Linked DNA regions of Homo sapiens: region 2 is reported to be linked to region 1. The links are microRNA targets in miRTarBase. Many come from high-throughput screens and were not tested one by one. Region 1 holds a microRNA gene; the other region holds the end of a gene's coding sequence.
Evidence for each region. Region 1 holds the annotated microRNA hsa-miR-548q (GCUGGUGCAAAAGUAAUGGCGG, at 1,772-1,793, shown strand). A microRNA usually pairs through its seed, bases 2 to 8, with sites in the 3' UTR of a target mRNA and lowers its output. Matches are read on the target gene's strand: a 7mer-m8 pairs with bases 2 to 8, a 7mer-A1 pairs with bases 2 to 7 and ends in A, and an 8mer does both.

Region 1 (4,387 bases):
ATTTGGGCCCCATGAGCCACAAGCCTCCGTCAGCACATGTGCCATGCATGCTACACAGGCCCTGGGCTGCGCAGGCTGAGGATAACGCGGAAGGGGAGCCTGGGTGTGGGGCCACGGGCATGGCGTGCCGTAGGCCTGACTGAATACAGCCGCTCCTCACCATGGCCCTGGGCAGCTGGGAGCACAGGGGCCTGAGGGGGCTGGGTTCAAATGAATTCTCACCTGGATGCACGAACACGTGCAAAGCATTTTTTAAATGAGCTATCCCGTTGAAGCAAAAGTGAGAACTCAAAACTCTGTCCCATGTTTGAAAACCACAGTCATAGTAGGTAAGGTTGTGGGCTCAAGAACCTGGAAGACGTTTGAGCAAATCCAAGCTCCGTCACTGAGGCAAGTCACCATGTCTCCAAGTCTCAGTTTCTTCAATCATCATGGAACTAGTGTGAGAATTTAATGAATTCTATAAAGCGTTGAGCACAGCCTTGCACTATATACAGCAGGTATAAAAATAATTACTAATAACAACGATGGCATGTCCTGGTCGTGGCTTCTGTAGAATTATTTTCTGAGACATGTCTCTTTTAATTCTCCTGCGGCACTAGGTCTAATTAAAGTTGACAATGTGTAAGTCAGCTTTCCGCTTAACTACAGTATTCCCTTCTTTTTTTAATTTTTTTACTTATTTATTTTATTTTTTGAGACAGAGTCTTGCTCTGTCTGGACTGGAGTCCAGTGGTGCAATCTGGGCTCACTGCAACCTCTGCCTCCCAGGTTCAAGTGATTCTCTTGCCTCAGCCTCCCAAGTAGCTGGGACTACAGGTGCGTGCCACTATGCCCAGCTAATTTTTTATATTTTAGTAGAAACAGGGTTTCACCATGTTGGTTAAGACAGTCTTGATCTCCTGACCTTGTGATCCACCCGCCTAGGCCTCCCAAAGTAATGGGATTACAGGCATGAGCCACTGCACCCGGCCCAGTATTCCCTTTGTAACATTACCAAGTCATCAATTCTATTTTATAGGTTAAGTAAAAAGAGAAATAGTCTATATACTAGAAAACCAGGCCGGGTGACGTGGCTCATGCCTGTAATGCCAATACTTTGGGAGGCCGAGGTGGGCAGATCACCTGAGATCAGGAGTTTGAAACCAGCCTGGCCAACATGAGGAAGCCCCGTCTATACTAAAAATACAAAAATTAGCTGGGTGTGATGGTGGGCGCCTGTAATGCCAGCTACTTGGGAGGCTGAGGCAAGAGAATTGCTTGAGCCTGGGAGGTGGAGGTTGCTGTGAGCCGAGATCATGCCACTGCACTCCAGCCTGGGCAACAGAGTGAGACTCCAGCTCAAAAACAGCAAAGAAAACCATATTATTCAGTAGTGTGTAGCTGGCTAGACGAACATGACCAGTTTTGGAATCCCGTGCATTCCTTCTCCCACAGAAGCAGGTGTAGACACGCCTCATGATGTTGCTCTTTCCTGCAAGATGCCGAAATGAGAGAAGACTGTTGAGAAAATAAAGTAGTAATTGACATTGCCAGTGGGTACTTATGACTTTTTAAGAAAGCTGTTAAACTTTGTCAGATTACTAACTCTTCTGGCTAAATCATCTTTTTAGAAATCATGTTTGGATTCATATATTTGAGCTGACAATGCACTTTACTCTCTCTTGAAAATTACTACTTTGATGTCCTTTAGTGTTGAGGAAGAAAACCCCCTACTTTTGAGTTTAATGGAAAGAAGCTACAAATACTTTCACACGTAAGAATATATTAGGCTGGTGCAAAAGTAATGGCGGTTTTTGCCATTACTTTTCATTTTTACCATTAAAAGTAATGGCAAAAAGCATGATTACTTTTTCACCAACCTAAGATTCATGCATTCCAAGGGTGCCGATTTCCATGGCTGACAAAGAGCCCCTGCTGTTATTTTCTTACTGGCTCCTGTGGCAATGTGGGCAGGTACCAGGCAGGGATCTGCAAGCTGAGTCCACAGAGGACTGCGGATCTGAGGGTTCTCCAGCTGCCCCCAGTCCACACGGCTAAGGAGAAACACAGTGGGACCCTTGCTTCTGCTGCAAAACACTAGACGGATGTGCCTGGTTATCATTTGTGAAGTTTAGATTGTTGAAAGAGATGTGGTTGAAAGAAACGTGCCTTTTTTCTTTTCACAGTTACATCAAACATCTCAGGTGGCAGACGCTGAGACACGGAGAGATCACTTTTTTTTTTTTGGTTTTTTAAGAGATGGGGTCTGGCTCTGTCACCCAGGCTGGAGTGCAGCAGTGTGACCGTAGCTCACTGCAGCCTCCAACTCAGACGGATCACATTCTGTCACCTGGCTAGACCCAAGTGAAGGCCCACAGAACTCAGGCTGCCCTGAGCTGGGCTTTATTTCATTCACACAGAAGCATCTCCTTCCTATGAAGCTCAGACAGCGGTTGCCCGGTGTCAAGCTCCTCAAAGTATTAATATTTTCCCAAACAGCCATTTAAATGTGAGGACTTCTCAGTGTCTAGGACAACTGGGATGTATTCACTTGCTTTCTTTAAAGTGGATTTACAAGGTTTTGCTTTTGTCCAGCAATCACATTCCATTTTTTATACCAGAAGATGCAGAGTGATGGGTGTAGTAAATCCAAAGCAGATGAGACCTCTGCACAAGCAAAACTCCTGTAAGTGAAGTGACTCCTATCCTAAGTGACTCCAGAACCCACTCAAGGACTCGGAAAGCCCCAGAACACAAACCCTGGCCCCCAGAGTCCCTTCTCCATGCACACGAATGCCATTTTCCTCACTTTGTTAAAACAGAAGGCAGCCCAAGACAAAAAGATAGAAACACATTTAAAAACCTGCTAATGGAGGCCCAGCACTTTGGGAGGCTGTGGTGGGTGGATCACTTGAGGTCAAAGTTTGAGATCAACCTGGCCAACATGGTGAAACCTCATCTCTATTACAAATATAAAAATTTGGCCCGGCATGGTGGCCGGCGTCTGTAATCCCAACTCCTCGGGAGGCCGAGGCACGAGAATTGCTTGAACCTGGGAGGTAGAGGTTGCAGTGAGCTGGGATCACGCCACTGCACTCCAGCCTGTGCGACAGAATGTCAAAACACCACCGCATGTTCTCACTCATAGGTGGGAATTGAACAATGAGAACATCTGGACACAGGAAGGGGAACATCACACACCGGGGCCTGTTGTGGGGTAGGGGGAGTGGGGAGGGATAGCATTAGGAGATAAACCTAATGTAAATGACGAGTTAATGGGTGCAGCACACCAACATGGCACATGTATACATATGTAACAAACCTGCACATTGTGCACATGTACCCTAGAACTTAAAGTATAATAAAAAATATAAAAAAAGAATGTCAAAACAACAACAACAACAAAACCTGCTAATAGAGTTTTAAACTACTGCAAGGATATAAACATAATTATTTATGATGTATTTTAATAGAAAAAAATGCCTTTCAATTTACATAGTAACTATTCTGCCTCTTGGAGGTCTTGCTTTCATTCATAAGTAGGCTGATTAGTGATGAGCTTACACATTAGCAAAAGATGCATGTTCATCTGTACCATATTGCAATTCCTGTATGCCTTAATGTAATCAATACTACTGCGGTATTTTCAGTAGATAACCTTCCTTAAGTAGATAACCTTCCCCTCCTTTTCTGAGATGAGATGCCCCAAAAACGATTCAGGGAAATGCAGGATTTAATTAGTTTGGGTTCTGTCATTTACCATCTGTGTGAGGTCAGGGAAGCTTTCTAACCTTGTGAGCTGCAGATGCCTCATCTGTTACATGGAAGAGGTCAGACATCTTTTCCTTTTAAAGCAAAAATTCTACAATTCTCCCGTTCAGACCGTTCAAACACCTAATAAATCTCAATTCTCCCAAACTGCAGCCTGCCTCCTTCCAAATAATGATAAATTCTCAATTAATTAAGTGTGACTCAATGAGATTGCTTTAAGACGTGTGGGCCTGCAATACACAAGCCCACTGCCTGACACCCTGGGACTTTAGCCTCTTCACGTCCATTTCTTCTTTTCCCCATGTGGTGTTCACATAGTTCTTCCTCCCATGTGGACTCCGGAACACCTTCCTTTCTGCCTTTTCCCATCTACACTCAAATTCCAGCCCACACCATTTTCCACCTGCCCCGAGAGCACCGATTATACCTCCGTTAGAGATATACTAATGAACACTTTCAATATTCTGTCACATACTTATTAAATCACATTTCCTGACTCTTTACTCTCTTCTACTTCTCACTCTTGTTCCAAGTAGTTCCCAATAGATCACATCCTTTTTAGTGATCAGGGCCATGCCTTACATTTCTGTTTCCGCCTTAATGCTAGAAACTCTGTTAGGACAGGGATTTTAAT
Region 2 (4,387 bases), not on the chromosome of region 1:
TCTCCAAAACTTGAGCCTGCCCAGGTCTGGCCCCAGCCCTCACTCCCCCTCCACTAACAGCATCCACCCTTATACCTCTCAGAGGTCCAGTCAGAGTTGCCCTAGAGGGGCTGCCTCCTAACATCTGTACAAGGCTGGGGTGGGGGCGGCGTTCCCCTGGCCCTGGTTGTGAGTTGAGTTGAGCTTCCAGCCCTGTCCTGGAGGAGCTGGCCTCAGTCATGCTACAGCCAATGCCCTTTTGCAGCTGAGACTTACAGGAAAGAGATCTCATTCAGTAGGAGTACTGAGACCTGAGGCTGGTGGTGCCAGGAGGAGGCAGGGATAGGGAGGGCTTTGCAGCAGCTGTAGATAGGCCTGGAAGAATGGGTAAATTCAGACAGATTTGTGAAGGCACAGTTCACCATCTGTGAAAGGTATGAGCCATTTGAGGCCCTTAGCTCCAAGCTACCACTGCAGATAGAGGTTGTATGGGATAAGTGAGCAGGGGACAAGGGACTACATGATAGAAGGGGCCTGGAAGCCATCCCCAAGGAGTCTGAACTTTTGTCAGATCAAGTCTTGCCCTTGTCTTTGTTAGTGCAATTTTTTTTTCCTGCCAGGAATGTTCTTCAGTCATCTGGGGTGGGGTGGGCAAAGGCATCCTTACCTCCCTGAACCACCCCATCCTCTGAGCAGGGGGAGATGATCAATCGGATTGAGAAGAACATCCTGAGCTCAGCGGACTACGTGGAACGTGGGCAGGAGCACGTCAAGACGGCCCTGGAGAACCAGAAGAAGGCGAGGAAGGTGAGCCTCCCAGGCCCGGCCACTGCCCCAGGCACCCTGTGTGACTTCCCTGACCCCCTCCTCTCCCACAGAAGAAAGTCTTGATTGCCATCTGTGTGTCCATCACCGTCGTCCTCCTAGCAGTCATCATTGGCGTCACAGTGGTTGGATAATGTCGCACATTGTTGGTGAGATGTTGTGGGCTGCCCCCTGGCCTGCCCCAGCCCTGGCCCCAGCCCTCCCTCCTCCCTCAGACCCTGTTCTCCCTCCTTTCCTTACAGGCACTAGGAGCACCAGGAACCCAGGGCCTGGCCTTCTCTCCCAGCAGCCTGGGGGGCAGGGCAGAGCCTCCAGTCGGACCCCTTCCTCACACTGGCCCCTATGCAGAAGGGCAGACAGTTCTTCTGGGGTTGGCAGCTGCTCATTCATGATGGCCTCCTCCTTCAGGCCTCAATGCCTGGGGGAGGCCTGCACTGTCCTGATTGGCCGGGACACACGGTTTTGTAAAAAATTAAAAAACAAAAAAAGAGCATAGAAAGCCCTGTGCACGTGTGTTCCTGGAAGGGCTGGCCCAAGGCTTCCGGGCATCCAACCTCCTTACCTCCTGGACGTCCCCAGGGCCAGGTCTGGCCCTGGCTGCTCAGGTCAAACTGCCAGGGGTGCTGTGCCCACAGCAGGCTGGTTCTGCCTTTCTGCACCCCCATAGGAATGGGTGGGCAGGGAGGGGTAACACCGGCATCTAGCTCCTGGCTCAGTACTGTCCCCGGGAAAGGACCACTGTGAGTATCTGTCTTGGAAATGATGAGGCTGACCAGGCCAGGCTGGGACGCAGGTGAGATGGGGGTTTGGGTGGCATCAGTGGGCCTTCTTGTGGCCCAGAGGAAGAGGCACCATGAAAAAATGCCTAATTGAGGCTGTCACTTTGGATGCAGTGGATAGGGATGGTCTGGTTTCAGCAGGGATGACATTGGAGTGGGATGTTAAGCTGGGGAAGAGGTTGCCAGTCAGAAAGCACAGGAGGCCGGGCCCTGTGACCAACAAAAGCATCATCTTTTACATAAGCGTTTAGGCAGGGTGTGGTGGCTCGCACCAGTAATCCCAGCACTTTGGGAGGCCCAGGCAGGAGGATCTCTTGAGCCCAGGAGCTTGAGACCAGCCTAGGCAGGATGGGGCAACCTCTTCTCTTTAGAGAATAATAATTTTACAAATTAGCCAGGCGTGATGGCAAGTGTCTGTCGTCCCAGCTACTCCAGAGGCTGAGGTGGGAGGATCGCTTGAGCCCAGGAGATTAAGGCTGCAGTGAGCCATGGTCATCCCACTGCACTCCATCCTGGGTGACAGAGCGAGACCCTGTCTCAAAAATAATAGCAATCATCATCAGTAGCAGCAGCAGCAGCAGCAGCAGCATAGAGAGCCAGTGATCCTGGATCAGTGCACCTGGTTGCTGAGGGTTACCTGGCTGAAGCAGGTGGTGGCAGCAGAAAAGCCTGACCTCTGATTTCTTCCATAAGGTACCTGAAATCCAAGCCCTGACTAAATTTCTTTTTTTCTTTTTTTTTGAGACAGAGTCTTGTTCTTTTGCCCAGGCTGGAGTGCAGTGGCACTATCTCAGCTCACTGCAAGCTCCGTCTCCCAGGTTCACGCCATTCTCCTGCCTCAGCCTCCCGAGTAGCTGGGACTGCAGGCACCCGCCACCACACCCGGCTAATTTTTTGTATTTTTAGTAGAGACGGGGTTTCACCGTGTTAGGATGGTCTCGATCTACTGACATCGTGATCTGCCCTCCTCGGCCTCCCAAAGTGTTGGGATTACAGGCGTGAGCCACCGCCTAAATTTCTAAGGGCTCCTAGTCCTGATGCCTAATTTCTGGAGTGGACGTGGCTCCTGTTCCCCGACACCTAGAGTTTTTGTTTGTTTGTTTGTTTGTTTTGAGACAGAGTCTCGCTCTGTCGCCCAGCCTGGGGTGCAGTGGCGCAATCTCGGCTCACTGCAAGCTCCGCCTCCCGGGTTCACGCCATTCTCCTGCCTCAGCCTCCAGAGTAGCTGGGACTACAGGCGCCCGCCACCATGCCCGGCTAATTTTTTTTTTTTTTTTGAGACGGAGTCTTGCTCTATCGCCCAGACTGGAGTGCAGTGGTGCGATCTCCGCTCACTGCAAACTTCGCCTCCCGGGTTCACGCCATTCTCCTGCCTCAGGCTCCTGAGTAGCTGGGACTACAGGCACCCGCCACCGCGCCCGGCTAATTTTTTGTATTTTTAGTAGAGACGGGGTTTCATCGTGTTAGCCAGGATGGTCTCGATCTCCTGACCTCGTGATCCGCCCGCCTCAGCTTCCCAAAGTGCTGGGATTACAGGCATGAGCCACCGCGCCCGGCCCCCGACACCTAGTTTTAAAGGGTAAGCCGGCTCCTGGCACCTGCCTACTTGCAGTAGGGCGGCGCCTAGCTCTGACCTCCAAGGTCTGGGGACTGCGTCGCAGCCGCCCAGTCCATCCCACTTTCAATCTTACAGGCCCCTGCTGTTGCTGCCGCTGCCGCCGCTCCCAGCTGCCCAGTCTGGCGGGCTCAGTCCCGCGTTGCCATGTGTGGGAGACCGCGTCGCGTAAGCGCTGGATGTGGCTTCGCTGATGCACATTGGACCGGGCTCTGGACTGGGCTAGGGGAAGGGCAGGAGGGCGGAATTGGGCCCGAGGGCCAGGCCTCGCCGACCCCCGACTGCGCCTCCCGGTGGCCCCGCAGCGCCTCCCGGTGGCCCTGGAGTGCAGGTCTTACCGTCCGAGATCGTCCGCAACTGGGCGAGCTGTGCATGGGGCGTGGCTAAGGCCGTGGTTTGGTTACGATTGGCCAGCGGGACTTAAGTGTTGTCTCTGAAGAGCATGGACATTAGTCTGGAGGGTCCTGGAAGAGTGATCCCCGCCCCACCATCAAATGGCGCTTAGGTCTAGGAAGCGGGTGTGGGTGGGGCCTTAGGGCGAGGCGCAGACATACCCCGAAGTGGTTGGATTGTATACCGCAAGGGGCTGGATCGAACCCCCCAAAGACACTGGAAGGCTGTGTGGCTGAGGAGGGCCCGGCAGATCCAGTGTGTCGTGGGCTTTACAGGAAAGAGCTCCACCTTCTCTGGAGTGTGCAGATGCGATCTAGGTGTGTCCACCCGATGGGAGCTGCGGGCCGGGCAGATGCTGCCCCAGTACAAAGCTGATTTGGACCTGGGGCCTCTGGACTTCCCTGATTCTCTGCTTGCATCTCCAGCAAAGTCCTGTCCCGTTGGCTGCCTTCATCCACTCTCTCACTTCTCTGCCTTCAGAGTAAAATTGCAAGATCTGTGGTGCTTACTGGGATCTGATAGAGTCTCTCGGCATCCACTGTCTATGCAGCGGGTGTCCACCTGCAGCGGGGGCCATGTGCAGCGGGGGGCCACGTGCAGTGTGTGCCTCTTCTTAGCCATGCTGGACAGCGCCGCCCCTGAAAAGCAGCTCCCCGGTTTCACCCAGAAAGCCATCCAGAACCTCCTGGAAAAGGTGGCCTGATGGCCAAGTGGCCTCGGATGCCAGGCTCAATCCTTTGAACTTTTCCTGTGGGCTGTCAGGACCCATAGAAGGTCTTTGAGCAGGTGAGTTTGG

Region 2: miRTarBase lists STX4 as a target of hsa-miR-548q. Seed matches in the 3' UTR shown: 7mer-m8 at 1,056-1,062.

Annotation. Positions count from the first base shown.
Region 1 is chr10:12,722,731-12,727,117 of GRCh38, reverse strand. MIR548Q (microRNA 548q) reads left to right here and starts at 1,765; the gene lies at 1,765-1,864. The region is part of intron 3 of CAMK1D (calcium/calmodulin dependent protein kinase ID); the gene reads right to left.
Region 2 is chr16:31,038,866-31,043,252 of GRCh38, forward strand. It overlaps STX4 (syntaxin 4), which reads left to right. Exons shown (of 11, transcript NM_004604.5): 9 at 676-786; 10 at 858-953; 11 at 1,047-1,299. The coding sequence ends at 938. Among named protein-coding and RNA genes, the nearest start is that of STX4, 7.5 kb to the left of the region's middle.